7 separate regions of the Homo sapiens genome follow, and all the other regions are linked to region 1. The links come from fine-mapping of genetic effects on gene expression. A gene starts in region 1. Each other region holds a variant in brackets. All regions are shown on one strand. Distances are from middle to middle.

Region 1 (4,066 bases):
TTGACTTATCCTAAATATATAATTTATATAAATTTACATAATTACATAAAAGTACTTAGGCTAAATTACAGTAAATATATTTTTGTTATACTGTTAATTACAACCTTGAAGCTTACTAAATTATTTTAAAACTACTTGGCCACATTAAGTTCAGATAAAAGTTGTCCCTAAAACATTAGCATTGATGTCCGCTAAAGTAGAACTCCCTTTAAATTATTATTATTATTATTATTGAGACAGTTTTGCTCTTGTTGCCCAGGCAAATGCAAATACACGATCTCGGCCCACTGCAACATTTGCCTCCTGGGTTCAAGCGATTCTCCTGCCTCAGCCTCCCCAGTAGCTGGGATTACAGGTGCCCACTACCACCCCCGGCTAATTTTTTAAATTTTATTTTTAGTAGAGACGAGGTTTCACCATATAAAACATAATTTAGGGCCAGGCGCGGTGGCTCATGCCTGTAATCACAGCACTTTGGGAGGCCGAGGCGGGCGGATCATCTGAGGTCAGGAGTTCGAGACACACCTGGCCAACATGGTAAAAACCGTCTCTATCAAAAAAACAAAAAAAAATTAGCCGGGCGTGGTGGCGTGCGCCTGGGAGGCTGAGGCAGGAGAAACACTTGAACCCGGGAGGTGGAGGTGGAAGTGAGCCCAGATCACGCCACTGCACTGCAGCCTGGGCTACAGAGGGAGACTCCTTCTCAAAAAATAAATAATAAATGTTTTAATTGCAAAAATTAGCATGTAGAAAATAGGGCAAAAATACAAATTGTCTGTGATGCTAAGCCCGAGACACCCAACAAGTTAATTTTCCTGTTTTTAGCGTAAAATCTTTCAAATAAATAACTACTGCTTTTAGTCTCTGCACCAGGAATCTCACGTGCTTTCAAATGTTTTACAAAGCACGTAAAAAAGTATTTGAAAAGTCCCACTTACCCCTCCCACTCCTATTTTTAAGATTATTAGGATCGGCCCAAATTTAAAAATTTAACAAAAAGAGTGCTTATTAATTACATTTTAAAATGAAGGGTTACAAAAAGAGATGAGCCTGGCATTTCTAATTCGGGGGCCTTGGGACCTCTCCCCTCCAAGTGCAAGTTGTAGCAACCTGCCGGGTCCACGCATGGGCGGGTCATACTCCACGGGTTCCGGTTTCCACTCCCTGTGAACCAAAAGCCAGAGAGGCCCACGCACGAGTCCGGAAGTGAGGGAGGGAGGACTTTCGTACGCAGCCGCCTCCCAGCTGGAACCTCATCTTTAGTGCTCGGCCGCGGGCGGCGTAACTCGGGGTTCCGCCTCGGAATACCTCCCACTTCTCTTGTCTAAGAGGAGCAGTAGCAAGCTGAGCTCAGAGCGAAGCTGGCGAGCCAAGGAGATAAAGAACCCTCGGTGGGGATGCCCAGAGGGTGCATGCTCCACGCCCCTCGAAACCGATTCTCATTGCTGCTGCTGCAAAGCAACCCGAAGTGCGCCACCTACCCGACTGAGGCTGCGCAAGCCCCGGGGTCTGGGCGGGGTGGTCCTCGTGCGCGCCGCGTCGCCGTGGAGACGAGGGCGGGCCCGCGCGAGACTGGCGTCTAGAGGCGCGCGAAGCGCTGAGGCGGGCGTGGACCGCGCGGGAGTTAAGAAGCAGGTCCCGGATCGCCGTATACCGCCGGGTTTTCTCCCAACGTCAGGCCCGATGGCTCGGCTTCCCCAGGTACGAGGCCCGGCCCTAACGTCCCCACCCTCTTCTGGGCTCGGCCTTTCCGGCAGTGAGCCCGGCAAGGACCTCAGTCGGGTTCCTCCGAGCCCGGTGAAATCTGTCCGAGCCTCCGCTTCCTCCCCTGAAAGTGCAGGTGATGTTGTCTACCTGCGGGTCTGTGGTGCGGGAATGGAGGAAGTGCGACAAGAGGGCGCAGGACGGGGCCCGGAGCCTGCCATCCTCTCCCGCCGCGTCTTCTCGGCTTCTTGTCTTCCGCCCTGGGGGCACCGCATCCTCCCAGGCGTCTAGTGCGCTCCTGGCCGGTGCTCGAGTCCACGCAATGCCCCTTAGCGTGCGCGGATCCAAATCAGGGGTTTCCTCCTCCCGGCTCCGTGGCCCAGGAGCGGAAGGGCTGGTATATGGGCGACCTTACTCCCACTGAGCCCGCAGGGAGTAACGCAGTAAACAAACCTGGAAGCCTTCCCCGCGTGGGAGGTGGGTACCTGTTTTTATGGGAGGCTGTTCAGGTTTCTTAACTGCTGTGTAGATGTGTTGTAAATATTTGTTGAATGAATGATGTGAGGGACTTGAGTACAGCCATACCTCGCTTTATTGCACTTCACAGATACCGTGTTTTTTACAAATTGAAAGTTTGTAGCAAGCAGCCCTGCACCGAGCAACTATTTTTTCAACAGCATGTGCCCACTTCCTGTCACTTACACTTTGGTAACTATCGCTATATTTCAAACTTTTTATTTCAGGTGCACCGTTACAGTGATCTGTGATCAGTGATCTTTGATGTTGTTATTGCAATTGTTTTAGGTGGCCACGAACCTCACTGGTATAAGACAGCAAACTTAAGTGTTGTGTCTGACTGCTCCACTACCTGCCAGTTCCCTGTTTCTCTCCTCCCTCTCGGTCCTCCTTGTAGCCTGAGAGGCAACAATATTGAAATTAGGCCAATTAATAGCCCCACAGTGGCCCCTAAGTGTTCAGTGAAAGGAAGAGTTCCATGTCTCTCACTTTATATCAAAAGCTAGAAATGACGAAGCTAGAAATGACGAAGCTAGAAATGCCTATGCTCTGTAAATGCAACAACAAACCCAGGATGACCACACATCTCTTTACTGAATGTCTTTACATCATATTTACAGTGTGGTTTACTGAATATTTTAAGCCTACTATCGAGACCTACTGTTCAGAAAAAAGGATTCCTTTCAAGATATTACTGGTCATTAACAAGGCACCTGGTCACCAAGGAACTCTGATGAAGATGTACAAAGAGATTAATGTTACTTTACATGTCTGCTAACACAGTATGCATTCTATAGCCCATGGTTCAAGGAGTAATTTTGACTTTCAAGTCATTATTTAAGAAATACATTTTGTGGGCTGGGCATGGTGGCTCATGCCTGTAATCCCAGCACTTTGGGAGGCCGAGGCGGGTGGATCACGAGGTCAGGAGTTTGAGACCAGCCTGGCCAACATAGTGAAACCCCGTCTCAACTAAAAAATACAAAATATTAGCCGGATGTGGTGGCGGGCACCCATAATCCCAGCTACTGGGGAGGCTGAGGCAGGAGAATCACTTGAACCCGGGAGGCGGAGCTTGCAGTGAGCCAAGATTGCGCCATTGCACTCCAGCCTGGGCGACAGAGTGATGAGACTCCATATCAAAAAAATATATATATATTTTGTGACCCCATAGCTGCCATAGGTAGTGATTCCTCTGATGGATCTGGGCAAAGTAAATTGAAAATGTTCTGGAAAGGATTTCTAGGTGCCATTAAGAACATTCATGATTTGTGGGAAGGGGTTAAAATATCAATTCCAGCCTGGCCAACTTGAAGAAACCCTGTGTCTACTAAAAATACAAAAATTAGCTGGGTGTGGTGGTGGGCGCCTGTAATCCCAGTTACTCAGGAGGCTGAGGCATGAGAATTGCTTGAACCCAGGAGGCAGAGGTTGCAGTGAGCCAAGACTGCACCACTGCACTCCAGCCTGGGCGACAGAGCAAGACTCCGTCTAAAAAAAAAAAAAATCATTAAAAGGAGTTTGAAAAAGTTGAGTCAGGCCGCCATGGATAACTGAGAGACTCAAGACCCGAGTGGAGGAAGTAACTGCAGATATGATAGAAAAATCAAGCAAACTGGAATTAGAAGGGGAGCCTAAAAATGTGACCAATTGCTGCAACCTCATGATAAAACTTGGATGGATGAGGAGTGGCTTCTTTTTTTCTTTTTTTTTTTTTTTGAGATGGAGTTTCACTCTTATTGCCCAGGCTGGAGTGCATGGCACACTCTTGACCTCCTGACCTCATGTGATCCACCTGCTTCGGCCTCCCAAAGTGCTGGGATTACAGACCTGAGCCACTACATGC
Region 2 (4,066 bases), 81 kb before region 1:
AATTTGCCCTCTGATGAAGTGCATACCAGCTGCCAACATATCTCTGCTTGGATGTCTAATTAGGTGTCTCAAAGTTAACGTGTAAGATTACATTCTTGATCTTAGCTGAGGCGGGAGGATCACTTGAGCTCAGGAGTTTGAGACCAGCCTGGGCAACATAGTGATACCTCATCTCTATTAAAAAATGAAAGTAAATTTAAAAATTAAAAAACAAAAAAATTCTTGATCTCCCATCCTCAACTTGCTCTTCCCTTAGTCTTTTCTATCTCAGTAAAGGCAAATTTATCCTTCAGAACTTTTAGGTCAAATCTTTTTTTCCCTTTCATCCCGCACATCTACTGTGTTGTTATATCCAGCTGGTTTTACCTTTGAAATATATCTAGAGGCCAGCCACTCTTTTTTTCCCCCTTTTTCATCCTTAAGTGAAAAACTTATGTGACTGACATGCTGGCTACTATGCTAAGGAGGAAACTCTACCAAAAGGTTGAGTTAATCATGCTTCTCAGTTCATGGCACATTTTCTTTTTTTTTTTTTTTTAGAGATAGGATCTTGCTCTCTTGCCCAGGCTGGAGTACAGTGGCATGATCACAGCTCACTGCAGCCTCAATTTCCTGGGATCAGGTGATCCTTCCTTCTTAGCCTCTTGAGTAGCTAAGGACTACAGGCATGTACCATCATACCCGCTAATTTTTTACTTTTTGAGAGACAGTCTCACTATGTTGTTCAGGGTGGTCTCGAAAACCCCGGGCTCGAGAGTCTCTCTCTTCTCAGCTTCCCGAGTAGCTGGGACTGCTGGCATGTACGACCATGGCAGGCTGATTGATTTTTACTTTTTTAGGGGTAGAATCTCGATATATTGCCTAGGCAGTGATTGTTGTCTTACTGTTTTTCAAGTATTTCTCTTAAATTCTATGTCTAATATGATATCTACTAGTTACATGTGACTAACATTTAATTACAATTGAATAAAATTTAAAATTTAGTTCCTCAATTATGTAAACCACATTTTATGTGTTTATTAGCTACACTTGACTAGTAACTACTGTATTGCACAGTACAGATGCAGAATATTTTCATTATTACAGAAACTTTTATTGGATACCACTGCTCTCGATATTAATTCCTTGTCATCTTTAGACATTATAAATATCTTCTCCCGTTAATTTTGTCCAAGGTGGTATTTGTTGAATAAAAATCCTTAATTTTGTTAGAATCTACACTTTATTTGTAGCTGGGACCACAGGTGTGTGCCACCACGCCTGGCTAATTTTTTTGTATTTTTAGTAGAAACGGGGTTTCACCATGTTGGCCAGGCTTGTCTAGAACTCCTCACCTCAAGTGATCCGCCTGCCTCGGCCTCCCAAAGTGCTGAGATTACAGGTGTGAGCACCTGGCCTACTCTTTATTTTTTCTTATGGTTTGTGCTTTTAAAGTTTTATTTAAGAAGTCCTTATCTTTCCTTAGGTCTTAGATATAGTCTCCTGTTTTTTCTATACTTTTAGGTCCTTTATTTACCTAGAGACTACTCTTATATCTGATATTAGAAGGGTATCCAATTTTAATTTTCTCTGTATAATGGGTCACTTTCCCCAACACCTTCTTTTTTTTTCCCCTTTGATTCGTAGTGACT[G/C]CAAACTCTTCACCTATATTGTCACTTCCTTCATTATGCCTTGTCTCTAACATTATAGCCCCATAACTGGCCTTCTTGCTGCTATCCTACTGCTCTGTAGTATCTTCTCACTACAGCTAGTATGATTGTGTATAAGAAGTCAGATCAGTCCAGGCACGATGGCTCATGACTGTAATCCCAGCACAGAGGCAGGCAGATCACTTGAGGCCAGGAGTTCCAGACTATCCTGGCTAACACGGCAAAACCCGATCTCTACTAAAAATACAAAAATTAGCTACTTGGGAGGCTGAGATGGGAGGATCACTTGAACCTGGGAGGCGGAGGTTGTAGTCAGGTGAGATGACACCACTGCATTCCAGCCTGCGTGACAGAGTGAGACTCTGTCTCAAGAAAGCAAACAAAAAAAAGAAGTCAGATCATGTCATTTGTTGGCTATACCTTCTGATGTTTTCCCATATTATTTGGGATGAGACCCAAAGTCTTAACATAGCTTACAAGCTACGGTAAATGACCTGGCCCCTGGCTGCCTCTCTGACCTCCTTTTCTATCACTTCAGTCACTGGGCTTAAGATATCACTGGCCGTCCGGGTGTGGTGGCTCACAGTCTGTAATTCCAGCACTTTGGGAGGCCAAGGTGGGTGGATCACCTGAGGTCAGGAGTTCAAGACCAGCCTGGCCAACGTGGTGAAACCCCATCTCTACTAAAAATACAAAAATTAGCCAGGCATGGTGGCAGGTACCTGTAATTCCATAGTCTGTAATTCCAGCACTTTGGGAGGCTGAAGCAGGTGCATCACAAGATGAAGAGATCGAGACCATCCTGGCCAACATGGTGAAACCGCGTGTCTATTAAAAATATAAAAATTAGCTGGGCATGGTGGCGTGTGCCTATAGTCCCAGCTACTCAGAAGGCTGAGGCAGGAGAATCGCTTGAATCCAGGCGGCAGAGGTTGTAGTGAGCGGAAATTGCACCATTGCACTCCACCCTGGTGACAGCAAGATTCTGTCTCAAAAAAAAAAAAAAAAATAGCTGGATGTGGTGGTATGCTTCTGTAGTCCCAGCTGTTCGGGAGGCTGAGGTAGGAGGTTCTCTTGAGCCCAGGAGGTCAATCTGCAGTGAGCCATGATCATGCCACTGCACTGCAGCCTGGGCAGCACACAGACACCCTGTCTCAAAAAAAAAAATAATAATAATAATAAGGCCGGGCATGGTGGCTCACACCTGTAATTCCAGCACTTTGGGAGGCCGAGGCGGGTGGATCACCAGGTCAGGAGATCGAGACCAACCTGGCCAAGGTGGTGAAACCCCGTCTCTGCTAAAAATACAAAAATTAGCTGGGTGTGGTGGTGCGCGCCTGTAGTCCCAAGCTGCTCGGGAGGCTGAGGCAGGAGAATCGCTTAAACCTGGGAGGCAGAGGTTGCAGTGAGCCGAGATTGCACCACTGCACTCCAGCCTGGCGACAGAGCAAGACTCTGTGTCAAAAAATAATAATAATAAAAATAAAATCATGGCTGCTTGGTGGCTCATGCCTGTAATTGCAGCACTCTGGGAGGCTGAGGGGGGTGGATCACTTGAGATCAGGAGTTTGAGACCAGTCTGGCTATCATGGTGAAACCCTGTCTGTACTAAAAATACAAAAAGTAGCTGGGCATGGTGATGCATGCCTGTAGTCCCAGCTACTTGGGAGGCTGAGGCAGGAGAATAGCTTGAACCCAGGAGGCGGAGGTTGCAGTGAGCCGAGATCACGCCATTGCACTCCAGCCTGCATGACAGAGCAAGACTCCATCTCAAAAAAATAAAATAAATAAAATAAAATCAGGCTGGGCATGGTGGTACATGCATGTAATCCCAGCACTTTAGGAGGCTGAGGCGAGCGGATCACCTGAGGTTGAAAGTTTGAGACCAGCCTGACTAACATGGAGAAACCCTGTCTCTATTAAAAATGCAAAATTAGCTAGGAGTGGTGGTCCATGCCTGTAATCCCAGCTACTTGGGAGGCTGAGTCAGGAGAATTGCTTGAACCCAGGAGGCAGAGGTTGTGAGCTGAGGTCGCACCAATGCACTCCAGCCTGGGCAACAAGAGTGAAACTCCATCTCAAAAAAAAAAAAAAAGTCTACCACTGAGGCTGGGCATGGTGGCTCACGCCTGTAATCCCAACACTTTGGGAGGCCGAGGTGGGCAGATCATGAGGTCAGGAGTTCAAGACCAGCCTGAACAACATGGTGAAATGCTGTCTCTACTGCATCTCAAAAAAAGAATGAGGGGTCAGGGTCAGGTGCAATGGCTCATACCTGTAATCCCAGCACTTTGGGAGGCTGAGGCAGGAGGATCACTTGAGGCCAGGAGTTCGAGACCAACCTGGGCAACATTGCAAGACCCTGTCTCTACAAAAATAAAAATTAAAAAAAAGAAAAAAATAGCCATGTGACATGG
Region 3 (4,066 bases), 120 kb before region 1:
CTCACGCCTATAATACCAGCACTTTGGGAGGCCGAGGCGGGTGGATCACCTGAGGTCAGGAGTTCCAGATTACCCTGACCAACATAGTAAAACCCTGTCTCTACTAAAAATACAAAATTAGCGGGGCGTGGTGGTACATGCCAGTAATCTCAGCTACTAAGGAGGCTGAGGCAGGAGAATTACTTGAATCCAGGAGCCGGAGGTTGCAGTGAGCTGAGATTGTGCATTGCCCTCCAGCCTGGGCAACAAGAGCGAAACTGTCTCAAAAAAATAAAATAAAATAAATAAATAAATATAATAAAAATAAAAATAAAAATAAAAACTCAGACTAGACTGGGCACAGTGGCTCACACCTGTAATTCCAGCACTTTGGGAGGCCAAGGCGGGCAGATCACCTGAGGTCAGGAGTTCGAGACCAGCCTGGCCAACACGGCAAAACCCCATCTCTACTAAAAATACAAAAATTAGCCGGGTATGGTAGCGGGCACCTGTAATCCCAGCTACTCAGGAGGCTGAGGCAGGAGAATCACTTGAACCCGGGAGGCAGAGGTTGTAGTGAGCCGAAATCGTGCCATTACACTCCAGCCTGGGCAACAAGAGTGAAACTCCGTCAAAAAAAAAAAAGACTAGAATGGACTAAGGCAAATTTTTTAAAAAACTTGAACATTGGTTTTTGGCATGACCAGGTACATGTTGCTGTTAATACATCTTGTACTAAAGCTAGATAAACAGGACTGCTATCTCACCTAGGTTTTTTTTTCCTTTTACTTCACTCAGAAGCAGAGATCCCAGGGTTTTTCTTTTGGCAGTGCCTATGGCTGGCAGTGTAATTTTTTTTTTTTTTTTTTTGGAGATAGCTCACTCTGTCACCCAGGCTGGAGTGTAGTCGTGCAATCTCTGCTCACTGCAACCTCTGCCTCCCAAGTTCAAACTATTCTTCTGCCTCAGCCTCCCAGCTAGCTGGAATTGCAGGTATGCATCACTATGGCCGGCTAATTTTTGTATTTTTAGTAAAGATGGGATTTCCCTGTGTTGGCCAGGCTGGTCTCGAACTCCTGACCTCTGATGATCCATCTGCCTTGGCCTCCCAAAGTGCTGGGATTACAGGCATGAACCACCACGCCTAGCCTGGCTGTGTCATTTTTGAGACTCAGTGCAAAATGAAAATGCAGGGACCTTTGTACAAAAGGCAGGGGAAAAAAATGTGCTGGTTTTTTGGTTGTTTTTTTTTTTTTTTTTTTTTTTTTTTTTTTGAGATGGAGTCTCGCCCTGTCACCCAGGCTGGAGTGCAGTGCTGCAATCTTCAGGCTGGAGTGCAGTGCCGCGATCTTCACTCACTGCAACCTCTGCGTCCTGGGTTCAAGCAATTTTCCTGCATCAGCCTCCAGAGTAGCTGGGACTACAGGCGCGTGCCACCATGCCTGGCTAATTTTTTTCTATATTTAGTAGAGACAGGGTTTCACCATGCTGGCCAGGCTTGTCTCGAACTCCTGACCTCATGATCCACCCGCTTCGCCCTCCCAAAGTGCTGGGATTACAGGCGTGAGCCACCGTGCCTGGCAAAAAATGTGCTGTTGAAAGTAATAACATAGCCCCCAGGCACGGTGTCTCAC[G/T]CCTGTAATCCCAGCACTTTGGGAGGCCGAGGCAGGTGGCGGATCACGAGGTCAGGAGATTGAGACCATCCTGGCTAATACCGTGAAACCCCATATCTACTAAAAATACAAAAAATTAGCCGGGCATGGTGGCGGGTGCCTGTAGTCCCAGCTACTCGGGAGGCTGAGGAAGAGAATGGTGTGAACCCGGGAGGCGGACTTCACTCTAGCCTGGGGGACAGAGCAAGACTCCCTCTCAAAAAAAAAAAAGGTAATAACATTTAAAGCTTTTTCCTTTCTTTCAAGATCTTTCTGGACTTGTCATGGCTTATTTATTTATTTATTTATTAGACAGAGTCTCACTGTGTTTCCCAGGAGGAATTGGAACTCCTGGGCTCAAGTGATCCTCCTGTCTCAGCCTCCCAAACAGTAGGGATCATTGTGTATTTATTTATTTATATGAGATGGGGTCTCACCCATGGTGTGTTTTCTTGTTGTTTTCCTTTTGAGACAGTCTCGCTTTGTCACCCAGGCTGGAGTGCAGTGGCGCAATCTTGGGTCCACCTCCGAGGTTCAAGCAATTCTTATGTCTCAGCCTCCTGAGTAGTTGGGATTACAGGCGCGTACCACCACGCCTGGCTCAATTTTGTATTTTTTTTTTTTTTGAGATGAGTCTCACTCTGTTGCCCAGGCTGGAGTGCAGTGGCATGATCTCGGCTCACTGCAACCTCCGCTTCCCGGGTTCAAGTGATTCTCCTGCCTCAGCCTCCCGAGTCGCTGGGACTACAGGCACGTGCCACCATGCCTGGCTAATTGTTGTATTTTTAGTAGAGACGGGGTTTTACCTTGTTCGCCAAGCTGGTTTTGAACTCCTGACCTCAGGTGATCTGCCCACCTCAGCCTCCCAAAGTGCCGGGATTATAGGCATGAGCCACTGCGCCCAGCCTAAATTTATTTTTTTAATTTACAAAATTATATATATTTATGGTGTACAACATGATGTTTTGAAATTTGTAGAATATGTGAAATGGCTAAATCAAACTAATTAACATATGTCTTACCTCTCATACTTTTTTTTTCTGTGGTGAGAACACTTAAAAACTACTTTCTCAGCCATTTTCAAGTATATATCTTCTAGTACTTATTTGTGGCCATTTTTTATTTTTATTTCTTTTGAGACAGAGTCTTGCTGTGTCACCAGGCTCGAGTGCAGTGGAGCGATCTTGGCTCACTGCAGCCTCTGCCTCCCAAGTTCAAACAGTTCTCCTCCTTCAGCCTCCTAAGTAGCTTCGACTACAGGTGTGTGCCACCACATCCGGCTAATTTTTGTATTTTTAGTAGAGATGGGGTTTCATCATGTTGGCTAGGATGGTCTCGATCTCCTGACCTCGTTTGTAATTCCAAAGCTTTGGGATTACAGGCATGAGCCATTGCGCCCGGCCTTAATATTGTATCATTTTATGAAAAATGTAAAACTCTCACAACAGTATGATTCCATTTACACCCTCAATATTGTCTTCTGTGCTACGATAGTCTTATATTTTATGAGTGTTGTAAAATCTCACAATACAATATTTTTGTTTTTGCTTTAAACAGTTGTCCTTTAAAGAAATTTTAAAAATATAAAAGACAATTTTAGGCTGGGTGCAGTGAATCATGCTGTAATCCCAGCACTTTGGGAAGCTGAATTTGGAGGATTGCTTGAGGCCAGGAGTTTGAGACCAGCCTCAGCAATAAATCACCTCTAAAAAAAATTTAGAAATTAGCTGGGTGTGGTGGTGCATGCCAGCTACTTAGAAGGCTGAAGTGGGAGGATTGTTTTAGCCCAGGATTTCAAGGCTGCTGTGAACTATGGTTGTGCCACACCAGCCTGGGCCACACAACGAAAGACCCTTCTCTAAAGAAAAAAAGAGGACGTTTTGGCCTTTCTTTTTTCACATAGTTTTTCCACTCCATTATCTCTTCTCTCCTTGTGGACTCCTATTACAGGTGTTATAGTTTGCTAGTGGCCCAGGAGACACTAAGACTCTGTTCATTTTTTCCTTTCTGTTTTTCCAACTTGGATAACTTTTATTGGTCCTTCAAGTTTATTTTAGCTTTACTCTGTACTTTTTAATCTTTTGTTAACTCTCCATGGTGAATTTTTCATTTCTGACATTGTACTTTTCCATGAATCCCATTTTTTATATTTTTCATTTTTCTGTTGAGATGTTACTTCACTATGGCCTTTTTTTTTTTTTTTTTTTTTTTTTGAGAGGGAGTCTCACTCTGTTGCCCCGGCTGGAATGCAGTGGTGTAATCTTGGCTTACTACAACCCCCACCTCCCAGGTTCTCAGCTTCCCAAGTAGCTGGGATTACAAACTCGCACTACCATACCCGACTAATTTTTTATATTTTTGGTAGAGACAGGGTTTCACCATGTTGGCCAGGCTGGTCTTGGAACTCCTGACCTTAAGTGATCTGCCCGCCTCGG
Region 4 (4,066 bases), 97 kb before region 1:
CTCTCTACTCTGTCCCCAGTGTTGTCACAGTGCCAGGCAGCAGTTGGAGCTCTGTAAATAACGATTGCATGAACAGGATGGCCACCCAGGACTCGGGAAAATGAGTATTACTCTTTGGTGCCTATTGACAGTTCAGGGCCCCAAGGTGGGTCCCAGGGTGTCTTTGAGCAGTAAGTGTTAACTTATCTGCAGGCCTCATATAATAGATTTGCTAAGGAGCACCTACTCACAGAGCAGTGATGCCCTTGATATTGTCAGCCAATTAATTCCTTAAGTACTTCAAGTTAGGATAGGCCTGCTGATTTGATTTTATCTGTCTTTTAAGATTGATCTTTGATCATGTCCCATTCCAGCTGGACCTCCTCATCTTCCCTCCTCCATTGCTAATAGTGTGGGATCTAATTACCTCATCATCCCTTAATTTATTTATGAAAAAGGCTGAGGTTAAAGAAAAGAAAGAAGAAACTCTCTTTGGCCCTTTGGGGACCTTCTGTAAAAGCTTTCCCTTCTGTTTCTCCCTCTTTATGCACAAGAAAACCTCCCTTTTTTGTCTCTGGGAAGTTAGAATAGTTCTTGTTTACAAATTTAACTAAATTAAACTTCCCTCCCAGGGCTGGGTGGAGGCCAGCCCTGTGGGTTAAGCCTGGCCTGTCGACTGTGGGTTAAGCCTGGCCTGTCGACTCCCGCTGGAATAATCAATCTATCAAAACAACCCATTGATCCTGAGGCAAACCGCTTTCAAAACCACCACATAGTTCCTGGACGTCCTGGCTTCCTCATGACACTTGGGGAAGAGGAGTCTTTTGAAATTTTAAATTTTATTATTACACAAGTAATACATGGATACATTCGTCTTGTAAAAATTTAACTTCAAAATTCTGTGGAATAAAATGTGAAAGGCCTTTTCTTTGCATCCCATCCCACAGTTAAGAGCTTCTGATGTATTTTTCTGTTTAGGCCTTTAAACTGCACGTTCATACACGTACACCTATATAAATGTACATTTAATTTTAAAAATAACATAAATGGTATCACTACGTAGGTGCCCTTCTGCTAGTTGTTTTCCCATTTAACATGTCCTGGGTAGCCAGTCAGACCACAGATCTACGTTTTAACGGCTGTAATCATATTTCAAAAACAGGATAGAGGCATTATTCATTTATCCATTTTCCTACTGATGGGTGTTAATATAGATTTCAATTTTTTGGTATTACAAACTATGTTGCAAGCAGCAGTTCTCTGGGAATTATCCATTCAAGTATGCACTTATTTTGGGCTCCCCATGTGCTCTACTCGGGGTTCGGAGTAAACAAAACCGACCTAAAAATAATTTTGAATGATAGAAAGGGGGCATTTTCTTTATCCAAGGGGGTGAGGCAGGCTGAAGATGGGTCTCTACTCCCTCCAAGACCATGGAGGGCGTCGGGGTGTCACCCCAGCTGTGAAAAAGGGACCCAGGACCCGCAGATGCTGGCGAGGAACAGGGGTGCGGAGCATGAGTCGGCTTTGCACCACGCCCTGGGGTCTCCAGCACTGAAGCGTTCAGTACCATGCAGAGCAGCTGGGAGCGGGTCCCGCTGGGCGGGGCCGAGCTGCGCGCGACCCTCGGCGCGCTCGGGGAGGCCCAGACAGGGGTGGCCTCTCTGGCCTCCGCTCCCGCGGGCTCTATGACACCGCACTGGCTCGCGGGACGGGGCGGGGTCGGGTGAGGGGGAGGAGACAGCCCCACGCTTTGCGACTCGCGGTGACCCCTACGCGGAACTCTCTCGCGGTAATTCGAAGTACCGCGCCTGCGTGCTGCAGTAGCGCCTGGTGGCGGTGGCAGTTTGCCCGCGGGTGTGTGAAGGGAGACAGTGTGGAGGCCACAGGGTACTCGCCACGATGAGCAGCACCTTAGCTAAGATCGCGGAGATAGAAGCAGAGGTAATGGACGCAGCTGGCGGTTCACTCTTAGTCTGAGCATTCCTTCTTTGGTGGCGTCGCTCCTTCCTGTTCTCCTTTGAGCCGCGTCAGGACCGGGCCTAGATTCCGCGACTTCTCTCAGCGAGGCCCGTGTTCCGACTGCCCTCTGCCACGATTAGGAGTCCCCGACTCTCCTCAGTCAGGGCCCCCTTTCCCCTCGTCCCGCGTCTACGCTCTCGGACTCCCCTTTGCCCGGGCCCGCGTTCCGCACCCCTGCACCTTAGGCCCTTAGTCCGTTCCCCCTCCCAGTGTTTGGCTCCTGTTCTGATGTTGTTTCTTTCCGTTTTGCTCTGA[GAA/G]ACACTGAATCCTGTCCCTTATTCCATCTCTGACTTGGTCAGATAGTTCAGGATCTTTCCTCATCATCCTTCGCTGCGTCCCCCTTATTCCCCCTTTTCCCAGTGTCTACCCTAATGACCCCCTGATTCAGAGTATTTGCTCCCGGTAATCGGATCTGGAAGTAAAATGACATCTGTGTGGGAGCAGTTTATTCCGCCTGGATAGTGTGTGATTCCATTGCGTGCGGCCCTGAGAGCGCTTTACAATTAGGAAAGTGGTGTCCCAGTGTTAGATGGATCCAAACAGCTGCAAATAGTAGAAAAGGAACCCGCAGACGGGTTTCAGTCTAGTCTGGGGGCACTAATTGGAATGACCTTAATCGTCTTTCCTCTTTGGGCTTTGCTTTGCTTTGTAGTGAGGGAAATGAGCTGGATGGAGGAGATAATGGACTTTTACTCTTTTAAAGCCTGTAAACTGGGTGTGCTAACATTAGTAGGACTTGGGGAAAAAAATTATCCTCTCAAAGCTGGGGGAAGCGTTCACTGCTTCTAATTTATGGCTGTGATTCCTCCCTTTTAGATGGCTCGGACTCAAAAGAACAAGGCCACAGCACACCACTTAGGGCTGCTTAAGGCTCGTCTTGCTAAGCTTCGTCGAGAACTCATTACTCCAAAGGGTGGTGGTGGTGGAGGTCCAGGAGAAGGTTTGTGTTCTTCTTCAATATATATATTTTTAGGTATAATTTTTGTCAAAATAGTACATACATGTGGTTTAAAAATAACTAAAGATGGCCCAGTGCAGTGGCTCAACGCCTGCAATCCTAGCATGCTGGGAGGCTGAGATAGGAGGATCACTTGAGGCCAGGAGTTCAAGACCAGCCTGATCAACATAGACCCCCATCTCAAAAAAAAAAAAAAGTTTTTTAAAAACAGAAAAATAACTAAAGATGTTCTACTAAAGTAGATTTATATTTTCTAAGCATGAATTCTTGAACTGTGTTTATTTTTATTCTGCCGGTTTCAGAGGCAAATGAATATTGTCTAAGTGTACTGTAGTTTTATTTATATCCTGCACTGATACAAAATAGATTTACATGCGCTGGGTGCAGTGGCTCACCCTTGTAATTCCAGCACTTTGGGAGGCTGAGGCGGGAGGATTGCTTGAGGCCAGGAGTTCGGAACCAGCAAAGCCCTGTCTCTATGGGCTTAGAAATGAGGGGTCCCCATAGGTATGAAAGAAGATGTACCAAAAAAAAAAAAAGGCTGGGTGCGGTGGCTCACGCCTGTAATCCTAGCACTTTGGGAGGCCAAGGCGTGGATCACGAGATCAGGAGTTCAAGACCAGCTTGGCCAGCATGGTGAAACCCCATCTCTACTAAAAATACAAAAATTAGCTGGGCATGGTGGCGCATGCCTGTAATCCCAGCTATTTGAGAGGCTGAGGCAGGAGAATTGCTTGAATCGGGACCCAGGAGGCAGAGGTAGCAGTGAGTGAGATTGTACCACTGCACTCCAGCCTGGGCTACAGAGCTAGACTCTGTCTCAAAAAAAAAAAAAAAAAAAAAAAGTATCCTAGCATGGTGGTGCATGTTTGTGGTCTCAGCTACTTGGGAGGCTGAGTTGGGAGGACTGCTTGAACCCAGGAGGTTGAGGCTGCAGTGAGTTGTGATGGCACCACTGCACTCCATCCTGGGTGATAGAGCGAGATCTCATCTTAAGAAAACCAAAGTAGGGCCAGGCGCGGTGGCTCACTCCTGTAATCCCAGCACTTCGGGAGGCCGAAGTGGGCAGATCACAGGTCAGGAGTTCGAGACTAGCCTGACCAACAT
Region 5 (4,066 bases), 89 kb after region 1:
GGAGCTCACAGTCTGTTGGAGTAAGGATTCACTGTTTTACCTTTCATCTCAGTACATTTCCATCTTCTTCCTCCCTTGCTTTAGCTGCTGCACAGGTTCTGGAACCTCTGGCGGTCTCAGATTGAGCAGAAAAAGGAAAGAGAGCTGCTCCCCTTACTGCATGCTGCCTGGGACCACTACAGGTAGGGACTCTGGTTTCATCCCTGGCTCTCAGGGACTTTGTGCCTCTGACTTACTGTTTTCCAGGAGTAATTGCTTGCCCTTCTATGCGTTAGTGTGGCAGATTCAGAAAGGCCTGCTGGGGTGGAGGTCCTGCTGTAAACCATTTGTTCCTGACTTTGGGTTTTTGGCTGATCAGATGGGAGATAGAATGAGCATATTTGCATTGGTTCTTGGCCACCATAGTCTGAAGTATGTGCCTGGTCGCTCACTGCCTTGGTCCTACAGGCATCAATATGTTCACAAGTTAGAATTCATGCATTGCTAGTGTTAAAGAGAAGGGTCAGGGACATTTGTGACTCAGTCTTAAAGTGTGCAGGGAATGTCCTCAATATTTTAGAGCTAGTCATTCAGTTAAATAAATAAAAACACTACATTTCTGTGAGGAAAACTCAGAATGTATAGGGTGGAAAGTATAAAGGGAAAAATAAAAGTTGCCTGGCCCCCTCCCTACAAGTAAGAGTAAGATCTTACTCCTCAGAAGGAAGCACTACGTATAAACTTTCTTGCTGCCAGAAATGTTCAATATGTCCTTCCTTTCTTTGCCCTCCTTTTTTCCTCTCCCCACAGTATAATCAACTTAATTTGCATAGTTTAGCTCCAATTTTGAAGCATTTTTTAATGAGTTAGTGAGAATCCCAATAATAAACTGACTCATTTAGAGTTATCAAGGCATATTATTCCAAACCCTGGTTTACAAAACCTAGTGTGAGAGGCAACATGTCGTGGACCCCCAGCGTTTGGCCATGAAACCAGAAAGTTCAGGATATCTAGGGGATTTCACACATATTTCCTAAATTCCAGAGCTACTGTGCTTTCGGTGGTCTAATTAGGTTTTACAAGAAAGTTGCAACATTTTAGGCAATCCACAGTCCAAAATCAGAGGTTGACAAATTTTATATTAGATATCAGGTTCTTATTGCCGTCTCTCCTAGAATGAAACTAGTAAGCCCATGGGGTGCCTTTAACTCACAGGAAGTAACTGTACCGCAATTTACCTGCCTTAAAACAAAGTTTTAAAAACTTGAAACCTGAAGGTGTTCTTCCTTTTGTTTCAGAATAGCACTGCTGTGCAAATGTATCGAATTGTGGCTACAGTATACTCAGAAGAGGCGGTACAAGCAGGTATGGAGTACTTTTTAGCAGATAGCTCTACTGGCTTACATTCTTGGACCCATTTGCTTTGGAAAGATTCTTGGAAAAGACCTATGCCAAGAAGTCTTATCGTTCTGCTTTGGAAGAGAGGGTGTTGAAAAAGCTCAAAGTCATTTCTTCCAGTTCCCACCTCTAATATCAGAAAGTCTGCATAACTCCCATTTCTTATCTGCTATGAAAATACAAGTTCTCTCTGAAAGTACTGAGCTCTTATCAGCCATTCACATCTTTACTCAAATTCATTTAGTCTCTGAGTTAGCCAGCCCTTCACCCAGTGGGACCTGCAAGAGGTACAGGGAGAGGTGCAGAGCATAAGTGCTGCATCCCAGTGCTAAACAGTGTGAGACACATGTCTCCCGGGGGTGGAGGATGTGAGGTCAGGACCACAAATAAGTAAAGGCAGATTGAGAAAGATAGATTCAATTCCATTTAAGAAATACTTATTGAGCAACTGCTGTTCTTCAGACACTGCACTAAGCACTGAGGATACAACTGTGATATAAAGTCAATAAAATTCCTGCTCTCCCAGGGCTCATACTTTAGCACCAGGGTGACAAATGAGTGTGACCTTACAAGCCCGTTCTACCAATTGGGAGTACCTGTCTGGAATGTTGAAGTGAGAAGGATTTCAAGGCCATATTTACACTCAGTGGGAAAGGGTTCAGTTGATGGCATCTGCCATTGTGAGAAGTGCCCCCTTTTTGGTCATCTCTGGCAGTGAAACAGAGGAAGACACAAACCAAACTCCTCCCAGTTATTTTCGTG[C/T]TGCCCACCCTACCCGTACCTCCATCTTCTGTTGGAGTCTAACAGGTGAATCTTTAGATTCACCTGTTAGCTAGTTCCCTATAGTTTGGGGATAGAATCCAAATTTTTAGCAAGGCCTACAAACTCCTTCGGGAGCTGGTCCCTGTCTGTTTCTCTCCCCTTTCCTGTTACCACTCTGTTCCTTCACAACTGCACTCTGACCAGTTAAGCTGCCAGTGGTTCCCTAAAGGTCCTCTGTGCCCTCCTGCTTCTCTTTGTACCTCCAGTTCTCTATTTCACACTCCCTTCCAGCTCAGATGTCACCTCCTCCCCCAGGCCAGTCCACCTCCACCCCTACCCCAGAGGCATAGCTTTATCAGAACATTCATCTTATAGTTGTTCACTGGCTTCTCTTTCCCCACAGGCTGTGAAGTCCTTTAGAGTACAGCCTGTCCCTTTTGCCTCCTTAGCCCACAGTGCTTGGCATGGGATATGTGCTAATATTTGGATGAATTAATGCACAGACCAACAAATGAACTGCTGTTGATTTCTTCAGAGTTTTTTTCCAAGGATGATCTAAGTCGATAGAGCTTGGATGCTACAGGGCATGGCCTCTTTTTGCGTCACTCTTGCCTCCTACACTTAAGAAATGCTAGAGTCACTGCATTCTTTGACATGCCTTTGGATTATGTTACTGGCTTTGAAAAGACATTGCCACTTGTTATCTTAAGTTCATGTAATACAAGTTCACCAGAATGCAGGAAAGCCTTTCAGAAAAAGACTATGAGTGTCAGAGTTGAAAGGTTGTATTTATTCAAGGTGGAGAGCAGAGGGTCTCTTTTATTTCCTTCCTGGAAAACGAGCACTCCCCTTGACACAGGGGCCCAACACTGGCGGACAGTCCAGGGTCAGCGTTTTCATCTCTCACACTGATCTAGCACGGCCTGCTTTCAAAGGTATAGCGGGTCTGAAAAATGGGAAGAGCACTGCTTAGTCATTCCTAAACCTTTAGCTAACAATCTGAATATCACCTCTTGGTATAGGTATCCCAGGAGCACATCAGATCTTTCTATTCTTAGACAAGATAAAAATATTATTTTTTGTGGGTTTCTTCCTTTTTAAAAAGTAACATACAGTCAGCCCTCTGTATCTGTGGGTTCCACATCCATAGATTCAACCAACCATGGATAAAAAATATTCAGAGGAAAAAAAGAGTAGTTGTGTCTGTACTGAACATATTCAGACCTTTTTTTCTTGTCATTAGCCCCTAAACAATATATAAACAATATAGCATAACAACTATGTACATAGCATTGACATTGTATTGGGTATTATGAGTAATCTAGAGATGCATACAGGAGGACTGTGTAGGTTATATGCAGATGCCAATTTATTTGTTTTGTTTTGTTTTTGAGACAGGTTTCACTTTGTCACCCAGGCTGGAGTACAGTGGCATGATCTTGGCTCACTGCAGCCTCACTCTCCCCAGGCTCAAGCGATTCTCCTGCCTCAGCCTCCCAAGTAGCTGGGACTACAGGTGCAAGCCACCACGCCCAGCTAATGTTTGTGTTTTGTTTTTTTTTTTGTAGAGGTGGGGTGCCACCATGTTACCCAGGCTGGTCTCAAACTCCCAAGCTCTGCCTGCCTCAGCATCCCAAAGTGCTGGGATTACAGGCATGAGCCACTGCACCCGGCCTGCTATACCATTTTATATAAGATACTTGAGTATCCATGGATTTTGGTATCTGAGAGGGGCCCTGGAACCAGTCCCCCACAAATACCAAAGGATGGCTCTTTGCAGAATGGCGAATGTTTGCTAACTGTTGAAGCTTGATGGTAGGGTCATGGGTATTCATTATACTGTCGGCTTCTACTTTTGTTTACATTTGAAAATGCCCATAATAAAAAATAGAAAAGCAATGTGTAGATATTATAGAAAATTTAGGAA
Region 6 (4,066 bases), 310 kb after region 1:
AGATAATGGTAATGCTCTCTGGTTTGTGCCCTGTCTCCACATGTTCCTAGCCTGATTTCCCCTTAGAACTGTGAGCTTCACTGACTTCTTAGAGTGTGAGGAGCTCTACATAGTGTTCTGTGTGTCACAACGTCTGTGGATGTCAATAGGTGTCAGGTGCTAAAATTTCATGGTCAAATCAGTTTGGGAAATGCTGGGTCATGCAAAGATAAGCAGGTTCCATAATGACAGGTCTTCCTCAGTTTTTAATATGTTAGTGTAGGTTGTTTTTCTCTAAAGGTTGTGTCAGGGTACTCTGAGTTCCCCAAACATATTTGGCACTAGAGAAGCCTTCCTGGAGGGATGATTTCAAGGGACCCATGTGCTGTCAGCCGATTTTCTTTCTTTCTTTTTTTTTTTAGACGGAGTCTCGCTCTGTCTCCCAGGCTGGAGTGCAGTGGTGTGATCTTGGCTCACTGCAAGCTCCGCCTCCTGGGTTCACACTATTCTCCTGCCTCAGCCTCCCAAGTAGCTGGGACTACAGGCATCCGCCACCATGCCCGGCTAATTTTTTTTGTATTTTTAGTAGAGGTGGAGCTTCTCCGTGTTAGCCAGGATGGTCTCGATCTCCTGACCTTGTGATCCGCCCGTCTTGGCCTCCCAAAGTTCTAGGATTGCAGGCATGAGCCACCACACCCAGCCGCTGTCAGCCCATTTTCAGATGCACTATCAGGTCATCTAGTCCAGTCCTTCCTCCATGATGTGCCTCGTATCCCCAACTCAGCCCCACACCCCCCAATTTGATTTGTTTCATCAACAAGATGGAGTTGGGACGCTGAGGCAGTAGAATTGCTTGAACCCAGAAGGTGGAGGTTGCAGTGAGCCGTGATCTCACGCCACTGCATGTCAGCCTGGGCAGCAGAGCAAGACTGTCAAAAAAAAAAAGGAGTTTGGAAAGTAAATCCTGATGCCACTAAAGAAGCTCTGTTAAGTGATGTGGATTGTTTTACTTTTTACTGAGATATTACAAAGTTACTGTTCCTTTCTGGCCTTAAAAATTTAAACATGGAAGTTTGGTTGTCTTTTTTTAAACAAGTCATGACCTGTAGGACAGTCAAAGGCTAATTGTCAAGCACCGAATAATGATACGTTAGTAGGGCACTTGGAAAAGAGGAAACAGACAAAATGAATGTATTTACTTCTTTGTTGGATAGGCAGCACTATGAGGTTATAAATCATACAATGGTAAGTTAGCTTTGCCTACTACCCATTTAAATAACATGATTTATAGATAGGGACACTTGTCTCTGCCATTCCCTCCCCACAATTCTTTTTGTCTTTTCTTTTTTTAGGAATTGGTGTGGATTTGGTGTGCATGGGAGAGCAACCGTTACATGCTGTCCCATTGTTCAAGGTAATTAGATTTCGGATTTGTTTACTAAAGGCCAGTTGGAGTATAGTTAGAAAGAGAAAAATTCCAGGCGCTGTGGCATGCACTTATAGTCCCACTTACTCGAGAGGCTGAAGTGGGAAGATCCCTTAAGCCTAGGAGTTTCGGTATAGTTTGCTATGAACATGCCTATGAATAACCACTGCACTCCAGCCTGGGCAGCAAAGCAAGACTCTATCTCTAAAAAAATTATTTTTGAGACGATGTCTTGTTCTTGTCCTCCAGGCTGGAGTGCAATGGTGCGATGTTGGCTCACTGCAACCTCTGCCTCCCGGGTTCAATCAGTTCTCCTGCCTCAGCCTCCCGAGTAGCTATGATTACAGGCGCCTGCCACCATGCCAGGCTAATTTTTGTATTTTTAGTAGAGACGGGGTTTCACCATGTTGGCCAGGCTGGTCTTGAACACCTGATTGCAGGTGGTCCGCCCGCCTTGGCCTCCCAAATTGCTGGGATTACAGGCATGACCCACAGCGCCCAGCCCTAAAAAATTTTTTTTAAAAACCTGAAAAACAGAAAAGTTAGAGCAGTTCCAAAACCTACTTGTTCTGTAGCTTATCTGTGCTCTCATTTTTCTCCTTGCAGCTCCATAATCGGAGTGCTCCC[C/T]GTGATTCTCGTCTGGGCGATGACTATAATATCCCTCACTGGATAAACCACAGGTGGGTGCGATCTCGATCAATAGTAGGTGATAAGCGTTTTGAACAGCTTCCTTGCCATTTTTCTTTAAATCTGTTAAGTTCTTATTATGGCACTAAACCTTTTGTTAAGAAAATGTGGAAACCAAGTTCTAACATTTGCTCAAAGCTCTGTACACACAAAGCAGTAGCAGTATCATAGGAACAGTCTATGGTGAAAAAGAATAAAAACAAAATTTGAAGGACTTACTTCCTCTGCAGTTCCCATGTCCTTCTATTCCCAACTCCCACAGACTGTAGAAGACCAACATTTGTACCTGACCTCCTTCAGCTCTAGAGAAGTCCCCGCGCCTCTTTACATGGAATCCTGCTGATTCCAGCTCAGGGATGGCTTTTCTCATCCCTCTGCCAGTGCCAGTGCCTCATCTTTTTGAACTATGACACTAATCTTATTCCACCTACCCTTCTCCTGAAAATGCCTATTTTCTTCCAAGATCCAACTCCAGCATCTCTCTTTTATGAATTCCTCCTGTGCTGCCCTGATAGCTAACAGCCACTTTTTCTTCAGTGCTTCCAGAGCATTCTATCCTTCTCTGGGTTGTCTTTCTTTCTTTCTTTTTTTTTTTTAAGACGGAGTTTCACTCTGTCACCCAGGCTGGAGTGCAGTGACATGATCTTGGCTCACTGCAACCTCCACCACCCGGGTTCAAGTGATTCTCTTGCCTCAGCCTCCTGCGTAGTTGGGATTACAGGTGCCTGCCGCCACGCCCGGCTAATTTTTGTATTTTTAGTAGAAACGAGATTTCACTGTGTTGGCCAACCTGGTCTTGAATAGCAAGTTCATGGCAAAGCTGCAGCTATTAGTTTATACTATTTGATATCATGATATTAGACTGTTTTTGACCTACAAAAGTAGCAATTTCAGGCCGGTCACAGTGGCTCATGCCTGTAATCCCAGCACTTTGGGATGCTGAGGTGGGAGGAATGCTTGAGGCCAGGAGTTTGAAACCATTTTGGTCAGTGTAGCCAGACTCTGTCTCTACCAAAAAACAAAACATAACTAATGTTTTGTAGTGAATTCTTGTAAAAGAAGTTAAAATTGGGAAGATTAGTGAAGCTGAGAACAAAGCCCATGTCAGGAGGGCTGATCCATGCCTAGTATTTTAACTGTGTTTTGAGTTTTAAAATAAAGGGAATTTAGATTAATGACTCTGTTTGTTTCTTTTACAGTTTCTACACATCCAAAAGCCAGCTCTTTTGTAATAGTTTCACCCCACGAATAAAACTGGCAGGAAAGAAGGTAGGTTTTTATTTTTGTTAAGACGGGGTCTTATTATGTGGTCCAGTCTTATCTTGAGCTCCTGGACTCAATCAGTCCTCCTGTTTCAGCCTCCCAAAGTGTTGGGATTACAGACATGAGCCATTCTGCCCAGCCAAGAAGGTAGATTTCATTAATCAGCAGAGAGCCTTTGTGGACTATCACGCATTGATAGGGTTATTTTAGTCCTGAGGTACCCTCATCTTTCCCAATGGCCATGAACAGGGTTAAGAAATTCATCCCCAAACTTTATAACTTTATACATTAGATAAATAAATAACAAGGCCAAGGCCAGACTGCGTGAAATACCTTTGAGAAAAATATGACCAAGACCAAGAGTTCATTTTTTGTTTGTTTGTTTAAGAGTTCGTTTTATTGTGACCTGACTGTTTTATTCAGATGTTGAAGCCACTCAGATACCAGTGGGGATAAAGACAAAGATGCAGATATGCATTGCAGCAAAGGGGAAATATGATAAAAAGGTCAGATCTTAGTATAAAGAAATGAAAATTCTGGCTGTGTGCAGTGGCTCTTGCCTGTAACCCCAGTGCTTTGGGTGGCTGAGGAAGGAGGATTGTTTGAAGCCAGGAGTTTGAGACCGATCTGGGCAACAAATATAGTGAGACCCCATTTCTGTAAAAACTAAAAAAGAATTAGCCAGGTGTATTGGCACATACCTGTAGTCCC
Region 7 (4,066 bases), 56 kb after region 1:
TGATCTCCCCCAGCCCAGTGATCTTTCCCCTGTCTGTATTCCCAAAGTATGAGAAGCTCTTACCCAAGCCTCATGATTACTGCACCAAATGCACTGTTTCACTGGTAAGTAACTTACGCTGTTTGTTGTTTATTTTTTTAATACATACAGTAAGATTCATTCTTTTTGAAGTTCAGTTCTAAGACTTTGATACACACTACCACATACAGCTAAATTTTTGTATTTTTGGTAGAGATGGGCTTTTGCCATGTTGCCCAGGCTGGTTTCAAACTCCTGGACTAAAGCAATCCACCTGCCTCGCTCTCCCAAAGTGCTGGCAATACAGGTGTGAGCCACTGTGCCTGGCCTTAAGTTTAATTCTATAAGAAACTGGCAAGGTTTTTTATCATGGCTGTGCCATTTTGCATTCCCACCAGTAATTCACGAGAGTTCTACTTGCTCTGCATCCTCTTGACCTCTTTGTATTGTCATTAAAATTTTTTCTTTGGCCATACTAATAGGTGTATACAGGCATTTAATTGTGGGTTTTTAAAAATTGGTGTTACATGAGTATACTGCATAATGATGGAGATTTGACTGTCCACTACCCAAATAGTGAACGTTGTACATGATAGGTAATTTTTCAACCCTTGGGCCTCTTCCACCCTCCCTTCCCCTCGTTTGGAGTCCCCAGTGTCTATTATCTCCACCTTTATGTCTGTGTGTACCAACAGTTTAGCTCCCGCTTATAAGTGAGAATATGTGGTATTTGATTTTCTGTTTCTGAGTTAGTTCACTTAGGATAATGGCCTCCAGCTCCATCCATGTTGGTGCAAAGGACATGATTTCATTCTTTTTTATGGCTGGGTGGTATTCCATGGTGTGTATTTTCTTTCTTTTTTTTTTATTTGAGACTGTCTCACTCTGTCACCCAGGCTGGAGTGCAGTGGTGTGATCTCGGCTCACTGCAGCCTCCACCTCCTGGGTTCAAGTGTTGCTTCTGCCTCAGCCTCTCAAGTACCTGGGACTACAGGCGTGTGCCACCATGCCCAACTAATTTTTGTATTTTTAGTAGAGACAAGGTTTCACTATATTGGCCAGGCTGGTCTCAAACTCCTGACCTCAGTGATCTGCCTGCCTCGGCCTCCCAAAGTACTGAGATTGCAGGCATGAGCCACCACGCCCGGCTGTGGTGTATATTTTCTGTATCTGTTGATGGATGCTGAGGTTGATTCCATGACTTTGCTGTTGAGAATAGTGCTGCAGTGAACATATGAGAGCAGGTGTCTTTTTAATATAATAATTTCTCTTCGTTTGGGTAGATTCCCGCTAGTGGGATTGCTGGGTCGAATGGTGGTTCTGTTTTTAGTTCTTTGAGAAATCTCCATACTGTTTTCCATAGAGGTTCAACTAATTTATATTCCCACCACCAGTGTGTTAAGTGTTCCCTTTCTCCACGTGCATGCCAACATCTGTTATTAAACTTTTTTTTTTTAAAGACAGGGGATGTCTTGCTGTGTCACCCAGGCTGGAGTGCAGTGGCTTGGTCATAGCTCACTGCAGCCTTGACTTCCTGGGCCAAGTAATCCTCCCACCTCAGACTCCTGAGTAGCTGGGACCGTAGGCATGTGCTACCACACCTGGCTAACTTTTTATATGTTATGGAGACAGGGTCTGGCTATGTTGCCCAAGCTGGTCTTGGACCCCTGGGCTCCAGTGATTCTCCTTCCTCAGCCTCCAAAAGTGCTAGGATTACAAGCATAAGCCACTGCACCCAGCCTAACTTTTTAATAACAGTCGTTCTGACTAGTGTAAGATGATATCTCATTGTGGTTTTAGTTTGCATTTCTCTGATAATTAGTGATGTTGAGTATCTTTTCCTGTGCTTATTTGCTATTTATATCTGTTTGGTGAAGTATCTGTTCATGATCTTTTGTCCTTTTAAATTGGGTTGTTTGTGTTCTTTTTGAGATTTGAAAGTTTTTTGTTTGTTTGGTTGGTTTGGTTTTTTTTGACACGGAATCTCACTCTTGCCCAGGCTGGAGTGCAGTGGCGCAATCTCGGCTCACTGCAACCTCGACCTCCCGGGTTTAAGTGATTCTCCCACCTTAGCCTCCCGAGTAGCTGGGACTACATGGTGCGCTACCATGCCCAGCTAATTTTTGT[AT/A]TTTTTTTTTTTTTTTTTTTTTCAGTAGAGACAGGGTTTCACCATGTTAGCCAGGGTGATCTGGAACTCCTGACCTCAGGGGATCCACCTGCCTCGGCCTCCCAAAGTGCTGGGACCACAGGGGTGAGCCACCAAGCCCAGCTGGTTTTTTAAAATATGTATTCTGTTATAAGCATTTTGTCAAAGCATGATTTGCTATGTTTTCTCCTAGTCTGTGACTTGTCTTTTCATTCTCTTAACAGTATCTTTTGCAGAGGAAAAGTTTTTAATTTTGATGAAGTCCATTCTATTTTTTTTTAATGGATTATGTTTTTTTTTTTTTTTTTTTTTTTTTTTTTTGCGAGAGTCCCACTGTTGCCCAGGTTGGAGTGCAGTGGTGTGAGGATAACCCATTGCAGCCTGGAACTCCTAGGCTCTGACCTCAGCCTCCCAAGTAGCTGGGACTACAGACAATGCCCCACCATACCTGGCTAAGTTTTTTATATTTTACAGAGATGGGGGTCTTGCTTTGTTGCCCAGGCTGGTCTGAAACTCCTGGCCTCAAGCAGTTCTCCCACTTCGGCTTCCCAAAGCCCTGGGATTACAGTCATGAGCCACTGTGCCCAGCTGGATTATATTTTTTCATATCCTATCTTAGATGTCATCTCTAAGAACTTTGCCTTAACCCAGGGTCACAAAGATTTCCTCTTATGTTTTCTCCTAAACATTCTGTAGTTTTACATATGGATCTTGTATATCCTGCATCCTTGCTAAGTTAATTTATTATTTCTTTTTCTTTTTTCTTTTTTTTAAATTTTGAGATGGAGTCTCGCTCTATTGCCCAGGCTGGAGTGCAGTGGCACGATCTCGGCTCACCGCAAGCTCCACCTCCCGGATTCACGCCATTCTCCTACCTCAGCCTCCCAATTAGCTGGGACTACAGGTGCCCACCACCCCGCCCGGCTAATTTTTTGTATTTTTAATAGAGACGGGATTTCACAGTGTTAGCCAGGATGGTCTTGATCTCCTGACCTCGTGATCCGCCCACCTCGGCCTCCCAAAGTGCTGGGATTACAGGCTTGAGCCACTGCGCCCAGCCTTTTTTTTTTTTTTTCAGATGGAGCCTCACTTTGTCACCCAGGATGGAGTGCAGAGTGGCGTGATCTCGGCTCACTGCAGCCTCTGCCTCCTGGGTTCAAGCAATTATCTTGCCTCAGACTACTGAGTAGCTGGGAGTAAAGGTACCTGCCACCACGCCCGGCTAATTTTTTTTTTGTATTTTTAGTAGAGACATTTACTGCTATAAAGTTCTCTTAAACACTAACTATATTACACGAATTTTAATAAGTTATATTTCTGTTTTCATTCAGTAAAAACTTGTTTTCTGATTTTCCCTGAGACCTCATCTTTGCCCCACAGATTATTTAGAAGTGTGTTTAGTTTTCTAATATTTGGGAGTTTCCCAATATCTTTCTGTTAAGGATTTCTAGTTTATTCTATTATTGTCAGAGAACAAGACTTAGTATGATTTCAGTTCCTTTATTTTTGTTAAGGTTTGTTCTGTGGCCCCAAATATGCTCTATCTTGTAAATGTTCTATATTTACTTGAAGAATGTACATTCTGCTGTCTTATTTATAGTTACAGTGAATCTAGCTAGATATTATGGAATAGAAGGAAAAAGTCACTTGGATGACTTTTTTATAGGCGGTGGCTCACGCCTATAATCCCAGCACTTTGGGAGGCTGAGGTGGGAAGATTGCTTGGGCCCAGGAGTTCGAGACCAGCCCAAGCAACATGGCAAAACCTCATCTCTACAAAAAAATACAAAAATTAGCCAGGTGTGGTGGTGCATGCCTGCAGTCCCAGCTACTCAAGAGGCAAGAGTTATTTCTGACATAAGACAAGTTATTTCAGGCCATTCCCCTAGACCTCAGGGAGTG

Evidence for each region. PIP is the estimated chance that this variant, and not a neighbour inherited with it, causes the effect.
Region 2: its variant is fine-mapped to the expression of SFI1 in whole blood (TOPMed, PIP above 0.99).
Region 3: its variant is fine-mapped to the expression of SFI1 in whole blood (TOPMed, PIP above 0.99).
Region 4: its variant is fine-mapped to the expression of SFI1 in whole blood (TOPMed, PIP 0.99).
Region 5: its variant is fine-mapped to the expression of SFI1 in whole blood (TOPMed, PIP above 0.99).
Region 6: its variant is fine-mapped to the expression of SFI1 in hypothalamus (GTEx, PIP above 0.99).
Region 7: its variant is fine-mapped to the expression of SFI1 in whole blood (INTERVAL, PIP above 0.99).

The regions. Positions count from the first base shown.
Region 1 is chr22:31,494,937-31,499,002 of GRCh38, forward strand. It overlaps SFI1 (SFI1 centrin binding protein), which reads left to right and starts at 1,600. Exons shown (of 33, transcript NM_001007467.3): 1 at 1,600-1,701. RefSeq lists silencers at 1,442-1,661, 2,562-2,621 and an enhancer at 1,682-1,951.
Region 2 is chr22:31,414,259-31,418,324 of GRCh38, forward strand. The region is part of intron 4 of DRG1 (developmentally regulated GTP binding protein 1); the gene reads left to right. Among named protein-coding and RNA genes, the nearest start is that of DRG1, 17 kb to the left of the region's middle. The variant G/C (reference allele first, on the strand shown) is at 1,632.
Region 3 is chr22:31,371,712-31,375,777 of GRCh38, forward strand. No RefSeq gene overlaps it. Among named protein-coding and RNA genes, the nearest start is that of DRG1, 26 kb to the right of the region's middle. The variant G/T (reference allele first, on the strand shown) is at 1,614.
Region 4 is chr22:31,397,803-31,401,868 of GRCh38, forward strand. It overlaps DRG1 (developmentally regulated GTP binding protein 1), which reads left to right and starts at 1,802. Exons shown (of 9, transcript NM_004147.4): 1 at 1,802-1,923; 2 at 2,818-2,941. The coding sequence starts at 1,882. RefSeq lists a silencer at 1,462-1,741 and enhancers at 1,829-2,734, 1,862-1,911. The variant GAA/G (reference allele first, on the strand shown) is at 2,257.
Region 5 is chr22:31,583,791-31,587,856 of GRCh38, forward strand. SFI1 (SFI1 centrin binding protein) reads left to right here. Exons shown (of 33, transcript NM_001007467.3): 13 at 85-182; 14 at 1,278-1,344. Among named protein-coding and RNA genes, the nearest start is that of MIR7109, 36 kb to the right of the region's middle. The variant C/T (reference allele first, on the strand shown) is at 2,140.
Region 6 is chr22:31,802,831-31,806,896 of GRCh38, forward strand. It overlaps DEPDC5 (DEP domain containing 5, GATOR1 subcomplex subunit), which reads left to right. Exons shown (of 43, transcript NM_001242896.3): 15 at 1-8; 16 at 1,332-1,393; 17 at 2,012-2,085; 18 at 3,292-3,361. Among named protein-coding and RNA genes, the nearest start is that of DEPDC5, 51 kb to the left of the region's middle. The variant C/T (reference allele first, on the strand shown) is at 2,033.
Region 7 is chr22:31,551,384-31,555,449 of GRCh38, forward strand. All of the region lies in intron 6 of SFI1 (SFI1 centrin binding protein), which reads left to right. Among named protein-coding and RNA genes, the nearest start is that of SFI1, 57 kb to the left of the region's middle. The variant AT/A (reference allele first, on the strand shown) is at 2,146.